2 linked regions of the Homo sapiens genome follow. The protein of the gene in region 1 purifies or fractionates together with the protein of each later gene. This does not show direct contact. Each region holds a gene or a part of one and is shown on either strand. Other genes may lie near its edges. The genes, in order: RNASE4 and CD109.

The links.
Region 2: the proteins of RNASE4 (region 1) and CD109 purify together in Homo sapiens (co-immunoprecipitation; 2 studies listed by BioGRID and IntAct, with this or other methods). This does not show direct contact.

The regions. Positions count from the first base shown.
Region 1 is NC_000014.9:20,680,435-20,693,132, forward strand, and holds the start of RNASE4 (ribonuclease 4 precursor), read left to right. Parts: upstream 1-4,125; 5' UTR 4,126-4,324; intron 4,325-8,329; exon of another isoform or gene 8,330-8,440; intron 8,441-12,596; exon of another isoform or gene 12,597-12,698.
Region 2 is NC_000006.12:73,698,538-73,706,202, reverse strand, and holds part of CD109 (CD109 antigen isoform 1 preproprotein), read right to left. Parts: intron 1-7,665. UniProt on the Homo sapiens protein: Modulates negatively TGFB1 signaling in keratinocytes.

The sequences.
Region 1 (12,698 bases):
CACGAGACTATTCTGGCTATCATGCAATTCCCATGAACTGCTCCACCTTCACTTCATATTCAGCTTACCTAAATCCTAGCGTCACCCCTCCGCCCTCTCCAGATACGCTGAAGAAGTAGGCTTCCTTTTTTCTGCAGGTGTTATCTTGCCTCTTCAAGACACCTTTGAGAGTCCCCTCTCTTTCCTCTTGATTTCACTTCATACCTAGGTTCAGCAGAATCGCCCTGCCCTGTAACGCTCTCACTCATCCCTTCCTTTCCAGTCCCATAACGATTACCTTTTTGCAGCTTTATGTTTGAGCATCTTCACCATGGCCAGTCACTGGTGTTTCTGACTCTGGTTGCTCGTCCCTTCAATTAATTCCGCAAACTCATCAATGTTTGGTGAATTTCTATTTTCTTCTACTAATCTTCTCACCTGCTGCCCCAGCCAGTGTTCCCTTGAATGTCTCAGTCTTTCTCTCGGACTTTGCTCGTAATTTTATTCTACCAGGGACCACCCTGCTCCCATTTTTGTCTAAGTCTTAACCTCCCTTCATAGTGCAGCTCAGGCCAATGCCCTCTTGAAGACACCCCCGGATGGTTCACTTTGTAAATGTGTGGACCTTGGCATGGCCAACGCCCCTTCACACCTGGCACAGCTACTTTTCATTGTTTTCCTTCATGAAAACTAAAGTTCTTTTGTTCCACAAAACTGTGACAGTGACTTCAGGATAAAGATCATATCTGGATCCCTAATTCTTAGTGCAGAGCCTAGTACAGAACTGGAATGCAGTGTTTGTTGAATGAAGGAATGAATTAAACTGCAAATTAACGAATGCCTGCTCTGGCACTGAGACTCGCAGCTGTGAGAAAGGTCTCTGGAGGCAGACAGTTGCTGGTACGAAGTCCTGAGTCAAGCAGGAAACAAAATGCGGATGTCAGCAGTTTCAAGTGAGACCTGTGGTGAGCTCCTTCCTCTGCCGGTTTTCCCTTCTTAATTTTCAGTCTGAAGTGAGGGAGTGGAGAATCTTTCTGTGTTAGACTGTGTCGCGTTGGGCAGATTTCTCCAATCTTAGGATAGTAGTGGTCCCTCTCACTGGCCTTCACTTTGTACCATCCCCAGCAAGAACACTGAGTCTGTGAACCGAATTCTAGTAGTCGGGAAATGGATTGAAAGGACATCCAGGTTTTACTTAGTTTCTATGCTCAGATGCTGGCAGAAGCCCTGCAAATCTTTTCCTTTTCTGTGAAAGGAAGAGGCGGTTTCTGCGTGAGGCCCTATAGCTCAGGGGTTAGAGCACTGGTCTTGTAAACCAGGGGTCGCGAGTTCAAATCTCGCTGGGGCCTTGCGAAACTACTTTCTTGATTCAGGTGTTTTTTGAAAAACTCCCCTTCTAGTCTTTCTGAACTAAGTCACAGAAAATGTGGCAAATTAGAGCTTCTTTCCTCTGTTCAGAGCTTCCAAACACTAGCTCAGCAGAACGTTTCCTTTAGGTTCCAGTAGTAATGCTGCTTTAGCTCCTGGAATGCGGCGGAATCCATTACACAGGCGGTGGAAATCACCGTCAGCCTCTGCCCACGCCCTGGCTTGCGGACTGGCGGCGAGAGCCCTGCTGACTGCCGGGCGGGAAATGGGGACAGCTAGGCGAGACAATAGCCCTTTAAGCTATTCTCAAGCCCCGGGTCTGGGCATATTTGGAGTAGAGATCAAGGTTCCACTTCTGAAACGGGAAGAGCCAGCAATGGCCGCTCCGGCCAGGCGTCCAGAAGAGAGATGCACGTTGTGAGGCAAGGTTTCATGTGCCAGTGGGGTTTTGGGAAATTAAGGGCCCGACTTTAGGGGCGAGACTTGGGTCACTAAATTTGATTTTAACGCAGAGAAATGTGGCCTTCCTTTTGAATGAGCTGCAAATATTATCTCCAAAAGCGAATTCACACAGAAACATTGGGTTTGCCCAGATGTCCTCTATTTCAGGGGTTCCCAACCCTTGGGCCGCGCACCTGTCCATGGCCTGTTAGGGACCCGGCTGTACAGCAGGAGGTGAACTCCGGGCTAGCTACCAGTACCGCCTGAGCTCCGCCTCCTGTGAGATCAGTGGTGGCATTAGAATCTCACAGGAGCGCGAACCCTATTGGGAACTGCGCATGCCAGGGATCTAAACTGCACTCCTTATGAGAATCTAAGTGATGCCTGATGATCTGAGGTGGAACAGTTTCATCCCGAAACCATCCCCCAACTCTTCCCCCCGCCCCCGCGGTCCGTGGAAAAACTGTCTTCCACGAAACCGGTCCCTAGTGCCAAAAATGTTGGGGACCACTGCTCCATTCCACACCCTCTCCCTCCCGTGTCTGTGGACGTGTAAGCGGAAGAGCCGAGATTGGGAGGGAAGCGCAGGAAGTGAGGACATCAGGGAGCCCGGGCCTAAGCCTGGAGGCCCGCCCTCTCCGGCGTTCACAGTTGCGCAGTCAGAATTGTGTGCGTCCCACCGCCTCAGCCCCCAGTTCTCCGACGCCCAGGTGCCGGTCCCCACCCTACACACAAACACACGCATCCACGCTCGCGAGGCCCCTGGGTCCGCGCCCAGTGAGGCCAACAGCCCTCGGGCGCCCAGAGGATGAGCAGCCTCGGTATGCCCGAGTTTCAGGGGCGCCTGCTCTGCTTGGGAGCCCCTCAGTGAGGCAGGGGAATCCAGATTTAGAAAGGTTGTCCTCAGAACCTCGGACGCAGGACTGTCTTACAAGCTGGCTTTGTGACTCTGCAGTAATTACTTTCCGGGTATAAAGAGATTTCTTTCTTTCCCGTCTCTGGTTAAGGATGTCTCGAGTAGGGATTTTTAGGAGAGTTGTTTCCGTGCTTCCTTCGATAGCTCAGCTGGTAGAGCGGAGGACTGTAGTACTTAATGTGTGGTCATCCTTAGGTCGCTGGTTCGATTCCGGCTCGAAGGAGACGCTGCTGTTTTGGGGTTTACGGTTGCTCTTCGTTTGTGCAAAAAATCTCTGTATCTTGACGTGATCAAATCTGTTTCTGTCTCTCACCCTTGTCCGAAGGAAACAGCTTAGCCGCGAGGTGGGCTGCGTTAATCGCGTCTTGAAAAGTTGGTTACCTTTCTGAAAGATAGTAGACCCGAATCGTCCCACCGTTGGGGGAAGGCACTGTTGTCTTACCGAAGTGTGTTATATTTTGGCTTCTACGTTAAGTCCAAAGGCCGGCAGATATATACGTATCGCGCGTCTGTCCTGGGGCTCAGTACCCTACAGCCTTGCAACCGAGCTCAGCTCTGGCCCTCGATCTCTATTTCAGCCCCCTCCAGGTTCCCTCCAGGCCCTAGCGGGCTTAAATCGCTCCCCGGGCTCAGTGAGACACAAGCATGTGACCTAAAGTCTAAAAAGCTGCCTTCCTTCACCCCATCCTGCATCTGGATCGAGGAGAATAAGCCAGAGAATAAGCCACACTTGAAACTTGGTGAAGATGGAAGGAATAACTAAATAAGGCCTAAGGGAAATGTCACAACAGAGGAAAAGAAACAAAACAAAAAACCTTCAGAACAGCAGGCGGAAAAGAGAAATTCAGAGTGATAGGAAGCACCACTCAGCTACAGTGGCTCGTTGGTCTAGGGGTATGATTCTCGCTTTGGGTGCGAGAGGTCCCGGGTTCAAATCCCGGACGAGCCCTCGTGGCTACTGTTTTTCCACCCCCTTTTGTCAACTACTGAAAAAAAGTCTCCGTTAAATTTGAAACACAAACTGTCTCGCGATGGGCTGTCCTGCCAAAGAAAGCAGCAGCGAATAAGTACGTGGCAGATGGTGCTGTCGACCAGTGTCAAGACCAAGTTTCATGGGTTCCTGGACGCTCAGCCAGGGGTAGTCTCTGAAGGGCCGCCTGGCAATTGGGAGCAGAAGCCAGTTTCCCGCCATCTGCTCTCCGTGGAGGCAGTGCTCTCGCGGCTGCTGCCCGTTGGGGTCCAGCTGAGGAAGGAGCGCGGATCCCAGGCTCGTTCTTTGCCTGGGCTGCCCCTGCGGCCCCTGGGGCGGGTGCTGCTGCGGCGCCAGCTCCAAGGGCGGATCCAGGCGGGAGGGGCCTCCTCGGAGAAGCGGGGCGCGGTCCCAACTACGCAGAGGCTGGCACGCCGACCCTCCACACCTCACCACGCCCCCATCTCCGTCCGTGTACACACACTCACACAAGGACGCCAACCCCACCTAGATGCAAAGCAGGATTCAAAAGAACATCTTTGCGTTTTCTACCGGCTCCCCATCATCGTACTAGGGAGGAAGAAGCGGGTGAGAAACAAAACTTCTTTCCATTGTCCTGCCCGTTTCTGCGGACTTGTTCTGAGGCCGAGGTAGGTTCACACTCCTGCTCCTCCTCCTCCTCTCTGGTAGCTTCATAAGGGGCGTTTAGGCCGGGGAGTCCTTTCCTAGTAGAGGCAGCTTGGGACTCCTTGGGGAGGAGTTTGCGGGACGGGGCTGGAGAGGGAGGAATGGGGAGGGACGTGAAAGTCCCGTATTTGTATGAGTTAACGACTTTACATTCCCACTCAGGTTTACTTTGCGCAGCTGGGCACAGATGCCAGCTTCTATTGATTAGTAGGCTTGGAGGGGGACCACAGAATCGCCGAACCTAAGGGAAGCCCTAGGAGGCCTGCACTTGCCCACAACTAAGAAAGCTTTGCTAGTTATTCAGGCTAATCACCAGCTTTTTGAAGCAGGCCTTAGTTTTTTGCAAGCGTAACTAACATTTGGGGATCGGTGTTTTCTGTTTACTCTCCTCTGCCTCCTCACCCTTAACCCACCCTCAGCCAGTGTTGTGCAATTCTTAGAGACACTTGCCAACAGCCTCTTCTCTAAGCCTTCCTACTGGAAGGTTGGGATCCTCCGTTTTCTCGCTCTGAGACAGCACGTCAAATGCTAATAGCAGCACATGAGTAAAGCGCAACATCTTTATTAAAACAATTTCAGCACCACTCAGGGGGCTAGGGAAATCTCAGATGAGCCAAGACCCTCCCTCGTGACAGTAAAAATCTTATAATCAAGTCATAATGTAATCAGTAGAAACCCAAGGGACATCATTATCTGTGGCACAGGACCACCTTCCCAGAAGCAGCCTCAGGTATTCAAGACTTACTTAACCACAGAGCCACTAACAAGTTTTGCAAGAGGATAGGTTTATTACATACGCTTCAATTCAAGCAATTCTTTTACTGATGACAAGCAGAGTAAAATAATTTTTGAATTTATGGTAATAGTCAATGTAGGTTTCCTTCGAACAGCAACTTTCAGTGGCCCCTTTAAAGTTAGCTCTGATTGTCTAGAAAGTACTAGTATGGAATATAAAAGTTGTGTGGGCCCGGCACGGTGGCTCATGCCTGTAATCCCAGCACTTTGGGAGGCCGAGGTGGGTGCATCACAAGATCAGGAGTTCGAGACCAGCCTGGCCAAGATGGTGAAACCTCGTCTCTACTAAAAATACAAAAATTAGCCGGGCACGGTGGTGAGCACCTGTAACCCCAGCTACTCGGGAGGCTGAGACAGGAGACTCTCTTGAACCTGGGAGGCGGAGGTTACAGTGAACAGAGATTGCGTCACTGCACTCTAGCCTGGGTGACAGAGCAAGACTCCGTCTTAAAAAAAAAAAAAAAAAAAATTGTGTGGTGCATTGGAAAGCTTCCAGGCCGGCGAATGCAATGAGTTCCTTGGGCAATACATGTCTCTTTCTCTGTTCCTCAGTTGGCTCTTCTTTAATATGAGGGGTGGACAGAGTCTCAGAGGCCCCTCCCACTCTTGTTCTATGACTCCATGGAGTGGTACGATGTTAGTAACAGGACATGAGGCACTCTAGTAATGTGGAGATGAACTATCGTTTGGCAGAGAGGATGGAAAAAATCATTCCAGGAAAAGAGGAATGGCTTTAGCTATTGTTGAAAACAGATAATCAGGTTATAAGCAGGCAAGAGTAAGAGGTTTGTCAAGTTATTGTTGGAAGCATTGGTCACTGTGACTCAAATTAAAGTAGCTGGATAAAAAAGTGGACCAATGAAGGTCAGTGAAACCTTTCTTTAGGAGTTTTTATTGAATCTGTATTTAAGCAGATTCTCTGTAATTCTCTGTAAACAGTTATTCCCGGAAGAATGCCATGAAATACTTGGGAAAGAGGGAATGGGAACAAAGAGTGAGTGGGCACAAAGCCCAGAGTTGGTTGAAAAGCAAATGTTTAATTTTTGTCTTTGTTTGGAAATACAGGCATGTCAGCAGGACTTTGTCCCCACTGTCCTTCAATCAGTAGTGTTGCCTCTTCCTGGAGACGTGGTTCTTCTTGCCACGTGTGCTTTTCCTTCTTTACCTGTTACTTCCGTTATTGAATAAGTTCATGCTTATAGACCTAAAGTGTTAGAATAATAAAGAAATATAGAAATTATTTAGTCCATTCTTCCCATCATCTAATTTTATAATTAGTCCTAAGACAGAATGATACATATATACTCTGTATGAAGGAGGAAAGTGCTCTAACACTAGGGTCCTTGGAAACAGGACCCGTGCATCCCGTGTCTGTGTGCAGGGACATTATTGGCTTGAGGGAGAGAGAGAAAAAAATCTCCAGGAAAGGGGAATGACTTTCAAGTTAAAGCTGTCTGAACATTTAAAAAATATATGAGGTTTTTTGCAATTGGCGATTCCTTCATTTGTATTAAAATTACTGACAAAGATGTGATGTTCCTTAATCATAGAATATAATTCCTTGTTGTATTTTAAACACAAATGACTAAGTGCTTAGATGCATTCTAATGAAATAGTAATTTTTCCCCCAAACCCTACTTTTCATTTCAACAAAACTTCCTTGTGCCAAGTTTAAAAGAAAAACATAAAACTGTCTTTTTGCATTGTGGGCAGATTGTGTATCCTCCAAAGGTTGTCCAGTGAAGGCCCAGAGGCAGAGAAGGGACCTAACTATATTCAGAGGCTGCTGGTTGCCCCACCTCAGCACTACTGCAGAACTCTAAAATCAGAGGCTGCTCTGTTTGTGTGAGTCGGTGCTTGAATTGGTGCTTCAGGCCATGGGGCTGTGTGTGTGCAGGCGCATATGGGTTGTATGCTGTGGCAGGGTACCGCTTTTCGGGACTCAGAGGTGGTGTTGCTTGAGCTAAGCCTGGAAAGACAGGTCAGTTTTCTCCTTGCTTATGAAGGGTTCAAAGTCTGACTCCACCATTCATCTGCTGTTTGTTCTTGGAGTTTCCTCATGAGCAGAGCATATTTACATAATGCCTACCTCACACAGTCCTGGTGTTGGTTGAATGTAGTCATGTATGTGAGAGCTTCACAAAATGAAAGATTGCACTGAATATTATAATTATTGTGATTTCAAGTGCATTTGTTTTACTAGCAGGCAGCCTGTCTTTTCTTGACACCTTCTCAAGTGCAGCCAGACTGAATACTTGGCAGCTAGGTGGGTGACAACAGAGGATTGAGGATTTTTAAAAAGATAACACTGTCCTAGATCCAACACCACTGTGGGCAAATGCTGGGGGTCTGTGAAACAGTTGGTACCCTGCTGCTGTCTGATATTGGAAACTATGAGATCTATAAGGTGATCCTGGTGACCTTTGGCCCACTGTTTTTACGCAAGCAATGGATCTACAGCCCTGCTTTGATGATGGAGATAAGCAATTTTGCAACTACATTACAAGGATCAGAAGATTGAATGTTCAGGGTTAGTCTCTTGTGGACAGGTAAAGATGGAAGAAGGAGAAACCCAGGAAACATGGCAAGCCTGCTTCTGGGGGTTAGAAGCTGAGAAGTTGAGTGTAGGGGGAGGGGCAGTGTACTAATAGCTGTCACACAACCTTCTCTGGAAGTGCTTTCCTGGCTGTATGAAATCGATGGAATAACGTGCTTAGCATCCGTTCATGAAACCAAATGATGTGATACGATAAATAGGATGTGATATGATAAATGATAAATAGTACAGTGGAAAAGCATCCTACTGGAAGACCATATCTTACTCTGTGACATCTTCCAAGGCAGTTCTTGGAGTTGGCCCAGGGAGATCAGAGATGCTATCTTATGGATCCAGACTATTATGTGTGAATAGGGAAACCTCAGTCCTGCCATGAACAAGAGTAAGCACCACAGACAGCAGAAAAGGGCAACTTTTGGACAGAAGGCCATGTTTCTCAAACTTTGTCTTCCAGAACAAATCTCTAATCCATTCAGGTGGGTTAATATCTAACCCAATCATGCCCAGCGAAAAGGTGAATGACCCTCCTCGTTTGTTCAAGAGCAGTGTCCTTGGTTTTCATGTCCCTGCCAGGACTGGGACACTATATATTAGGAACACTATATAATCAGAACCTGGAGAGGCCTCCAGGTTCACACAACTGGAACCCATCTCCAGGAACAAACAGCTGGAACCCATCTCCCGTTGAAGGGAAACTGCCAGATTTTTGTAAGATTCTTCCTCCTGGGTAAACTATTGTTCAATTTGTTTTATATATTATTTCTAGCCATCCATCCATTTTAATGAAACCATTTTCCTCCCTTTAAAGCCTCCAGGCTCAAGCTCATGAATTAAAAAGAAAATGGATCAGATTCTAAAGTTTAAAATGAAAACAGGTTTCTTTTGGGATGGCCTATGTGTGGATAAAGAGAAATTAGTGAGACTGGGAGGAAGTGGAAGTTTAGGAGGGATTTCTAAATTGTGATAAAATCCCCAAAGGCCTGGGGGAGCCATTTGCTGAAGGCCATCGGGAGTCCTCCCCCGTCGTCCACCCCTGTTACAGGCATTACACGTGGCTTAACAAGGAAAGAAACAGTATGTTTTTAGCATTGTTTCCTTCTAACCTTCCCTGCTAATTTCTCTTCTTAGAAAAGTTTTGGATGCTCTTTCAAACAAAGTGGAACACATCCCAAGATCAAAAGAAGGCTCACTGGCAGGTTGAAGGGAAGAAGGAAGGAAAAGCAATAAAGGGATGAATATGCCTTGGGTGTTAGGCTCTTACTTTGGGGGATTTTGCCCTAGGATGTATAAAAGTGTGAAGCCACATTGATGAAAATGATAACTATAGTTACTCATCATAAACTGTCAAGTTAACTCCCTGGTGTGTAAAATTTGATGAATCTTTTGAATACTGAACATTGCCTGTGGGGAGAGGGAGAGAATAATTCTTGTGAATACTAACAGATTCATTTGATACAGAAGATAAAGTTACTCTAAAGAACAGTTGGGGCCAGGTGTGGTGGCTCACACCTGTAATCCCCGCACTTTGGGAAGCCGAGGTAGCCGGATCAACTGAGGTCAGGAGTTCGAGACCAGCCTGGCCGACATGGCGAAACCCCGTCTCTACCAAATACACAAAATTAGCCAAGCGTGGTGGTGGCCGCCTGTAATCCCAGCTACTTGGGAGGCTGAGGCAGGAGAATTGCCTGAACCTGGGAGGTGGAGGTTGCAGTGAGCCAAGATAGCACCACTGCGATCTAGCCTGGGCGATAGAACAAGACTCTGTCTCAAAAAAAAAAAAAAAACAGGCCGGGCGCGGTGGCTCACGCCTGTAATCCCAGCACTTTGGGAGGCCGAGGCGGGTGGATCATGAGGTCAGGAGATCGAGACCATCCTGGCTAACAAGGTGAAACCCCGTCTCTACTAAAAATACAAAAAATTAGCCGGGCGCGGTGGCGGGCGCCTGTAGTCCCAGCTACTCGGGAGGCTGAGGCAGGAGAATGGCGTGAACCCGGGAGGCGGAGCTTGCAGTGAGCCGAGATTGCGCCACTGCAGTCCGCAGTCCGGCCTGGGCGACAGAGCGAGACTCCGTCTCAAAAAAAAAAAAAAAAAAAAAAAAAAAGAAAAGAAAAGAAAAAAAGGACAGAGAACAGCTGGGACTAATTCCACTGACAAAAAGCTGACAGACAGTTACGTGTTTGGGTACAGAAGGATATATCTATAGGACTTTTGCCACCAGATGTGAGGCTTTGCACCCTTGGCTTAGGCAGATTCACTTTTACACCACAAACGATCTGTCTCTTACTGGTTTTCTCCCAATTCCATTTTACCTTGCTTTTTGAGGAATTTAGAGTTGAATATATTGAGAAAGTTTTGAGTGAGGGAGCAGATGTTAGATATTGGTGGTTTTGGTGTACGCTTGCTGAGATTTGGTTCCTGGATGTCTTAGGGAATCAAGATTACAGGCCCCCAACTAAACTTATACAAAATTTGTCTCTGTAACTGAGGGTCACTGGACCTTTGCTATTGAAACTAGCAAAGCCTCTATTATGTTTAATGAGAACCATGAAACTTCAGATTTTTAGAGCTAGCAACTCTTTTATTTTCTTGATGAACAAACCTAGGCCTGGAGAGAAAAATGAAGTCAATTACTTAAAAAATATTAAGGGTTATAATAAGGCAAGCATGTTGATTCAAGGTGAATAATATGAGTTCTGTGGAATATACACCAGTAAGAAACACTAACAAGTAAATACTTCATTGTTCATCCACGATCACGTGGGTAATGGCATGTTTGGAAATGGCACCCGTGAAACCTGACAACAGGTCGGTCTTTATTTTGTGATATCCTTATGGGTAGATTCTGAACTTTGTGGCTTTTACTTTGGCACTTATATCTAATGAGGTGTCCTTGGTCTTAATATCTAATGCAGAGCGAGTTTGGACAGAGATTCTAAACAGGTTCACCAGCTCATACTCCCTTCTGTGAACAGCAATATCCCCACAAGTTATACAGCATTGGCACCTCCTGCAAGTACGGTATTTCCTAGAGAAGACATTAGTAACATTCCTATCCACCACTGCCACCTAACGACTCTTTTAGGTACTAGCAGCTCTGGTTCCGTTTCCTGATTTCTGATTTCTGGGATTCTGGCACCAGGCAGAAGAATGTTGACTGTGTAAGGCAGACCTTTGACATTAGAAGTCAGTATTTGTTCATTACAGAGCAAGAGACTTAATTGATTACAAATCAATAAAACTTTAATAAGATCTTCCAAAAAACTAGAAACAGGAAACACACCCAGGAGACTGAAAAGCATGATGTAAATGTGAAGAACGTGGCAAGTGGGTGGCTTGGCAGCCCAGCAGCTATACTGGAGCAGCTGCATGAGTGAATACTTGTTACTCCTTTAGGGCTGGCTCTCCATTCTACAATCATGTACCTCTTTCTTGATAAACTCCCAAGAACACACTTTCAGCATGGAATTTCAGACTTTTAGAGATAGCAACTCTCTCAAGTATGGACAAATGTCGGTGCGGACAAATTTGATGCACTGCTGAAGAATACCAAATAATATGCTAAGGAATTTTTTCATTCCACAATAATGGAGTAAATAGCAGCTGGAAATGTTTGCATTAAGTTCATAGATTATAATTTGTAATGGAATCAACACCAAATGCAAATTAGAAAGAGAGCCCACTTTGCTCACCCAGTCACGTCTTCCCATGTAACCATAGAACATTGGGGTCCTGTGTCTTTCTAGATCCACAGTCTTGCTCTCAGAACAGGCTAGCCACACCACAGGCCTAGTGCCAGGACCCATGGCCTTTTTTTAAGCTCAGACTCCCTTCTGTGAACAGCAATATCCCCACAACTTGTACAACATTGGTGCTTCCTGCAAGGGCTACAGAACTATTTGATACGAAAATGTTCATTGACTTACACACAAGAGAAGCACAAAATAAAAAATTAATAATTAATTTAATGTCTTTGAAAATGTACCATTTATTTTTACATTTGGGGTCATAAGAATTGTATTACACTTAAGAATGCAATACAATTTGAAGATCAGATTTTTCTCCCTTTGTGAGAATTTCTCAGTATGTGTGATGACTACCAAGAAATCATAGCCAGTCATAAATTCAGTGAGTTACTCATAAACGAACAAGAACCACCTACTTCTTGGGGAGGTAGGTCTGCTTCCCTTCAACTCAGGATACAACTGCTTTCAACTGCTTTCTTCACATTAGCTGACTAATTAGCTAGAAGCCTGTCGTAAACAATTTTATGGTTGACTCCTTCCCTGGGCTCAGGGTTCCCTAGAACAGAGGTCCCCAAATCCCGGTCTGTGGCCTGTCCGCCTAAGCTCTGCCTCCTGCCAGATCAGCAGGCAGCATTAGATTCTCATAGGAGCTGGACGCCTATTGTGAACTGCGCATGTGCGGGATCCAGATTGTGCACTCTTTATGAGAATCTAACTAATGCTTGATGATCTATCTGAACCAGAACAATTTCATCCTGAAACCATCCCCCACCAATCCATAGAAATACTGTCTTCCACAAAAATGATCCCTGGTGCCAAAAATGTTAGAGACCACTCCCCTAAAACTCTCTTCTTAGCTCTCACCTCCTGTATTACTATCTCATCTCAGTACATTGAAGCCCCCATCTTTTCCCCATGGATGCCTCATTTCCTATTAGGGAGGCATTTTTTTATTTTTTGTTTTTATTTTTTTCCGAGACGGAGTCTCGCTCTGTCGCCAAGGCTGGAGTGCAGTGGCGCGATCTCGGCTCACTGCAAGCTCCGCCTCCCGGGTTCACGCCATTCTCCTGCCTCAGCCTCCCGAGTAGCTGGGACTACAGGCGCCCGCCACTACGCCCGGCTAATTTTTTGTATTTTTAGTAGAGACGGGGTTTCACCGTGGTAGCCAGGATGGTCTCGATCTCCTGACCTCGTGATCCGCCCGCCTTGGCCTCCCAAAGTGCTGGGATTACAGGCGTGAGC
Region 2 (7,665 bases), on another chromosome or scaffold:
TGTGCAATTTACAAGTCGGTAAATAAGTTTTCCTAAAACTGTATTTCAATTTTATTCTTCATCTCAATTTCATACCTCAAAATATTTCTTTCCTTAATGATTCTCTTCTATTTCTTTCTTTCTTCAAAGAAGAAAGTATGAGGGTTTTTTAAGGATAATCCACTTGCCTCTGCCCCAATACTGATCTCACCACTTCTAACCCAGGAATTATCCACCCTCTCCTTTGCCTTAACCACTTTCACCTTTCTAATGTGCCTTTTGAGAGACCGTCCACCTCTCTCCTTTCAACTACCAAACTTCTGGAAAGAATAAATTTTGATTATATTTTTCACCATCCATTTATTCCCTCAAATTTGCTTTTGCTTCCAACATTCAACTTAAAGCCATTTACTTAAGCGTCACCAATGTTCTTTCCTCTGTCCTCCTCTTCTCTGACCTGAGAGAATTGATTATTAACTATTAAACCTTCCTTCTTGGAACTTCTTCTTCCCTTGGCTTCTGAGACATTTTCAATTTACCCTTCTCTGATTGCTCGTTGTCTATTCTATTCTTTTCTTTTCTTTTCTTTTCTTTTCTTTTTCTTGAGACAGGGCCATGCTTTGTTACCCAGGCTAGAGTACAACGGCACTATAACTGTAGCTCAAGAAATCCTCCTGCCTGAGCCTCCTGAGTAGCTGGGACTACAAGCACATGTCACCACGTCCAGCTACCTTTTTTTTATTTTTAGTAGAGATGAGGTTCCAATATGTTGTCCAGGCTGATTTCAAACTCTTGAGCTCAAGCGATCTGCTCACCTCAGCCTCCCAAGTTGCTGGGATTACAGGCATGAGCCACTGTGTCTGGTCTTTTTCCCTTCATTAACTTATTTTCCTCTTTCCAAGCTTCTCTCAAAAGACTTGTTCTTTCCATGAGCTCTGTCTCTCTTGTGCATCTTATGTATTTCCAGGACTTCAAAATATTGTCTGCCTCTATGAAAATAATGCCTAAATCTCTCTCCCCAGCTGCAATTTCAAAACTATCTGCTGGACATCTCCACCTGGATGTCTCCCCAAACTCATATCCAAAGCAGAATGAAACATCTTTTTAGAAAATATATACACAAACCCCTATCTCCTTTTCATAACTGCCACACCAGCCAGCAGCTCTTTCCTCCGGCACACCCTTCCCGTCTCTAGTACGTGAAGTAACTGTTCCCTCCAAAGGCCAAATATGTCAGCAGAGGTGGGACATTTATGAATGGACATCTGTATAGCTCTGGAAGTAAAAGATAATAGTACCAGGCACAGGCTCACATACAAGAAGCACTATTTACAAACCGCATTGTATTTTTTATACAAAAAATAAAAACTCCTCTAGCCTTCTGCACTTTTAATATTATATTATCCTTCTGGGACCTCTGAATGTCCTCCAGTGCCTTCCTTTCTCTTATTCCCCACTCCCCATTCATTCATGTTTCACATACAGCAAATAATCAATAAATAATACATTAATGAGAAGAAATGTCTGTGGGGAAACAACTAGTTTCAGCATTATAAAGCCCTCTTCACAGGACATAAAGGATCAACAGTAACCCAGCCCAAATTCTTATGGGATCTGTTTTCTATTTCCACCACAATCCTTCAGTGAGTCACTAGGACAGTGACTCATCCAGTGCTAGAAGAGGAGCAGCACATGTTTAACTTGGAGTTTAAAGAATCAGTGTGTTCACTTTTAACTTCACCCAATCGTTGATTCACAATCAAACCCCAAGTCATGTTTCTCTGCGGCTGAAAATGAACACCAGCGCTTAGGGTTGAGGGTTGCTTAAAAGCAAACATGAAAGTCCACGAGGAGCCTTCCCTCCGCCGCCATGAATCATCACAGGCTTGCAGGGGCATGCTACTCACCCTCGAGCTTTCCAGTATTTGGTCGAGTACAATTTGTGAGATACCAAAGGGCAGTTGTTCTCATTCTAATGTGACTAAGAATCACCTGTGGTCATGGTGGAACATAAAGGTTAGATTCTCTTTTTTTTTTTTTTTTTGAGATGGAGTCTTGCTCTGTCACCCAGGCTGGAGTGCACTGGTACAATCTCACTGCAGCCTCTGCCTCCTGGGTTCAAGCGATTCTCCTGCCTCAGCCTCCCAAGTAACTGGGACTATAGGCGCCCACCACCACACCTGGCTAATTTTTGTGTTTTTGGTAGAGACGGGGTTTCACCATGTTGGCCAGGCTGGTCTCGAACTTCTGGCCTCAAGTGATCCACCTACCTTGGCTTCCCAAAGTGCTGGGATTATAGGCGTGAGCCACCACACCCAGCTGAGATTCTTGATTCTTACCCATGTCTTGAGGGAGGCCATGAATCAGCCTTTTTAATAAATACAATTTGGACTCTGAGAAACAAAGCAACAGAATTTAGTTTTTAAAAGGTCTATGAAGCTTCTAACCCAGCCCCCACCCCTTATACAGAACAAATAGTGCATAAAGAGCAACTCCACCTTGAGCTAAAATAAGAAACTTTCACAGTATGCAAGTAAGCATTTTTAAACTCCTTAGTTAGCCTTATTTTCTTCCATATCAGAAGAATCAGCATTTGTAAATATATCTTAGGTCTTAAGCTCAGCTCTCCATATGTTAGGAAACTTTCGTAGAGTATACTGGAAATAGCACTGGACTGCAAATTTGGGAAACTGCAATCTGTTTCCAGCTCTGCCACCAATAAGTGATTTGACCTTGGGAAAATCCCCAGATCCCATGCCTCACCTCAGTCTCCCAGCCATATATTAGGCTATTGAATTTGCTTATCTTTGAGGTCCCCTCCAGCTCCAAAACTCTATGAGGCTGAAAGTAAATTAAGAGGAGAGCTGGCATTTCATTTTGTAATTCTTTCGATTCAAATTAGATTTCATTAGATCCAGGTCTATCTACTGCAAGCAAATGTGAAAATGATTTTAGTGGAAGACAACTGCAACATTGCATCAATATCCCAAAATCAAGGAAATAAAAATACTTCACTCTCTTCCCAGCAATAGAAAACCTTATGGTCTCTGGACCTCAGATACAACTAACTTCAAATTCAGGCTTCACCATTTACTAACTGGGTTAACTCAGAAAAACTAATTCTTCTCTCTTTGCCTCAATTTCCTCACCTCCAAAATGAAGACAAGAGTATCTACTTCATCAAGTTGTTAAAATTAAATATAGTGCATAAAGTCCTTGGCACTATGAGGAAACTGGATATTTAATATGTTAAATCCCTTCCAATCCCCTCCTAGGGATGTGTCTTTTATAGAGTTCCCGGTTCAAGATTGTCACAATAGGTGATTAATAATTGCCTTTGACATAAACTGTTGCTACTCTCTTCTAGTAACAATAGCTACCATTTTCTTGAATAATTCCTTTGTGTTAAGTGCCTTGAATATGTTACCTCATTTAATCCTCACAATATCCATATAATTGTATAAGGCAGAAACCACTATTTTTCAGATGATGAAACTGAAGCCTAGTGAGATCATGACTGCCCACAGCCACACAACCACTAAGTGGAATGGCCAGCACCTGTGCCCAGGTAGCCAGGCTCCAGAGCCCAGGCACATCGTGATTATGCTGTGGTCCTTTATTCTCAGGTACCACCTACCTGTTAATATACATCACACACAAGAACAAAGACGATGTGTGAATGAAAAGCCTACACCCTTTAAAAATAATTCTAACATAACTGCAGGTTCAGACTGAGTTATGTTGGCAAAGCTGCCTGTGAAAACCTGCTCTGGGAGATCTGCCCACACACTACACTAATTAATCTACTTTCATAAAGACCATGGGACTGATTTTTATCTACGAGGCATGAAATGCATGTTCAGGAGCTTTGTTTCCACCAGAAAACCATCCAAACCAAATTGGATGATTTTTTAAGTTTTTCAGCTAATATCTCAATTTTTAAAAATTTCCCACCCTTACTGAGCCAAGATGGAAAATAAAATATATCATAGTCAATGTGAGAAAGACAACAAAGGAAAAAATAGATTTTTTAAAAAATCTTTAAAAAAAGGTTAACACTCCATTAACTCTCCAGGATTTTAGGGCAAAAAGAAAAAGCGAGTTACAGACACATTTATAGAGCACATTCCACCCCAGTAACTCAATGGGAAGATGGAAGTAGGATTGGCAGCATTTAAAAAATGGTGCCCCCAAACCAGCAGGCACTCACCTGGAGACGCCCATGCAGAGTTCCCAAAATTTCAGTAGGCATTTTCAGTTTAGGTTTTTGGGAGTTTTTGGTTTTAAGGGTTCTTTTGTTTTTGTTTTTGAGATAGAATTTCACTGTGTTGTCCAGGCTGGTCTCAAACTCCTGGGCTCAAGCAATCCTCCCACCTCAGCCTCCCAAGCTCTGGGATTACGGTTGTGAGCCACTGCACTCAGCCTCTAGCATTTTTTCTTAAATCAGGTTTACATGAAACTAATGATGATGAATTCATTAATGAGGGAGAAAGGTTATATTCTTTATTACTTGAAGTGACTCTTGTTCAGGAAAACTACTGAAAGTTTACAAATGAAAATGTCAAATTGTAGCAAGAGAAGGGAAAATAAAACAGAAATTATGGTTTCAAGGACATCACGAAAATTAAATTATTTTATATGCCTTAACAGATGAGAGGACAGTTCTCAAAATGTTCTTAATTTCTTTTTTCTTGATTTGGCAAGGAACTCCTTTCACAGTAAGGAAAGAGAAAAAAAATATGGGAAGAGACAAAGGGACAGACTCACTCTCCACCCAAAACAGTAATCTGACTTGATTTTAAATGCCAATAGCTGTGCCATCTTCTTTCCTCTGGTAATTATTACCTGCTGAACTTTTACTACGTTTTGCCAGTTATGTTTATTTAACTAACTCTTTATGCAAAGGAAGATAAGATTAGGAACATAGTTCTAATCACTATGGAGCTGATGGCAATGATGCTGATAGTGGTAGAGGCAGTGACAGTGGTAACAGTGACAAGCAATCTTTTGAATCTCACTACTAGAAAGGCATTGATACACCTTCCCAGAACTCTGCAAAGTGTAGCAGAAATACTTTTTCTAAAGGTCTATTATTCACCAAAAAAAAAAAAAAAGCCCATAATCGCTGGGCACGGTGGCTCACGCCTATAATCCTAGCACTTTGGGAGGCCGAGGCAGGCAGGTCACGAGGTCAGGAGTTCAAGACCAACCTGGCTAACACAGTGAAACCTCGTCTCTACTAAAAATACAAAAAATTAGCCAGGCATGGTGGCACATGCCTGTAGTCCCAGTTACTCGGAAGGCTGAGGCAGGAGAATCGCTTGAACCAGGGAGGCAGAGGTTGCAGTGAGCCGAGATCGCACCACTGCACTCCAGCCTGGGTGACAGAGTGAGACTGTGTCTCAAAAAAAAAAAAAAAAAAAAAAAAAAAAACTACAATCAATCCCCAATAAATGTAGAATTAATGTATTTTTAAATGAATAACAGTAATATAACCTACACTCCTGGCCATAAAAGTGGAAATGTAAATAAAATCTCCCCCATATCTGTCAAACAAACAAATGAACTCTTCCCTGAAGAAATGCCATACTTTTTCACCTTTATTAAATACATTCTCCATTTGAACAATTTAGTTATTACTATTTCCAACACAAATTGAGCCAGAAATCTATTGTGGTTTGGGTAAAACACCTCCCTATCCTGAGGATTTCTAAGAAATCCAAAACTGCTGGAAATAAGCTACTAAGACACAGTCTACTGCCTTACCCAACTTTACTAGAAGATAAATCTTTATTAAAACCAACCTTCTGTTGGGGGGCTGGGGGTGGCTCATAGGAAAATGAAACAATCAGGCTCATACCCATAATCCCAGCACTTCGGGAGGCTGAGGCAGGAAGATCGCTTGAGCCCAGGAGTTCAAGACCAGTCTGGGCAACATAGCAAGACCCCATCTCTACAAAAAAAAAAAAAATTTTAAACCTAGCATGCTGGCACTTGCCTGTAGTCCCAGCTGATTCAGGAGGCTGAGACAGCAGGATCACTTGAGCCCAAGAATTCCAAGTTGCAGTGAGCTATGATTTCACCACTGCACTCTGGCCTGGGCAACAGAGTGAGACTCTGTCCCTTAAAAATAAAAGGTATTTATTTGTTGGTGTTTGGTGTTTATGTGATGGAGAAAAAACAAAACATGAATCCACATCCAGATACTTGAAGATCCAGACCCCTGATTTAGAAGTCCTGGTTTATCTACATATTGTTACAACTGGAGAAGCCAGATAAAGCAAAGGATGTGAAGACAAGCAGGGAGAAGTGTCTTGATCCTCAAGTCCTCACATTACAGGAAGCATCTGCTCTGAGAACAATAACTCCCAGCCTCTGATAATACAGTAACATTCTCCTTTGAAACAGGAGAGTGCTCCTAGCAATGGCATTTTCAATGAAACTCTATGTCAATAGAGTCAAAAACAGCCCATGAAAGAAGCAGCGTTTTCCCTCCTTCCTTCCCACAGATCCATTCTGCTCCCAGGACAGCTTTGCCCGCCCCAGTCTTGAGTACTTGAACTTTCCTATGGGCATACAAGGAACCCTTCTCCCAAAAGAAGATCTAAGAATAAAGCTGAAAACCAAGCCACAACAACATGCACCCCAATGTAGGTACTATTTGTTGCAAAAAAAAAGAGAGACTGATAACAGAGATCACAGAAAAGACCTAACAGGTGAAATTCTAGAATTAGAGTATGTAAATGTCCAAGCAAAGCTCAAATATTTATCAAAAACATCCATATATATTCTGGATCTCTGCATTGCAGGAAAACTGCCACACTAGTGGAGCCAATATTATAAATTCTTTTTTTTTTAACTTTTATTTTAGTTTCAGGGATACACGTGCAGGTTTGTTATATAGGTAAAATGCCTGTCATAGGGCTTTAGTGTACATGTTATTTCATCATCCAGGTGATAAGTGTGGTACCCAATAGGTGGTTTTTTAATACCCTCCCTCTTCCCACTCATAAATTCTTAATGAATAAATAATGAATGTGGAACTACCTTAAGTATTATGTCCTGTGATTTAATATTTCAATATTTTCTTTAGCGACTATCATAAGATCAGGGGTCATTCATTTTCAGAAATGATAGTCCAATAACGAAAGTTGAAGTCTGCCCCCATGTAAAAAGGAAATGGACTTTCTGCATCCTCTTCTGCAGTATTATTACACTAATAATATTAGCAATTGTTGTTTATTGCATGCCTAAGAGGTACTATATACAGATTTTAACTTTATAACTGCCCTGGGAAATCAGTTTCATTATTTCCATTTTATAGACAAGGAAACTGTGGCTCAAAGCAGTTAAGTAACCTACCTAAGATCATACAACTAGTAGCAAAGTAGTACCAGGATTCAAACTCAGATCTTAAGGGCTAACCTATACTTCCCCTCCAGGGAAATAAGACCTCCCACTTCCCTGACATTGCTTCTATGAGGGACAAAAGTGACTTGCCCCTACACACACCATCTCTTCCTGACTCCTATTCCAAATATACCTACCCAGTGAACTTCCAGTGGGGAAAGAACCACAGATGCAGATAAACTTTTACTTTTATTTCATTTCATGATGGTGTTCATTTCTCTACGCTTGTAGAGAATAAACACTTATGTAATGAATACCAACCACCCTTCATTACGT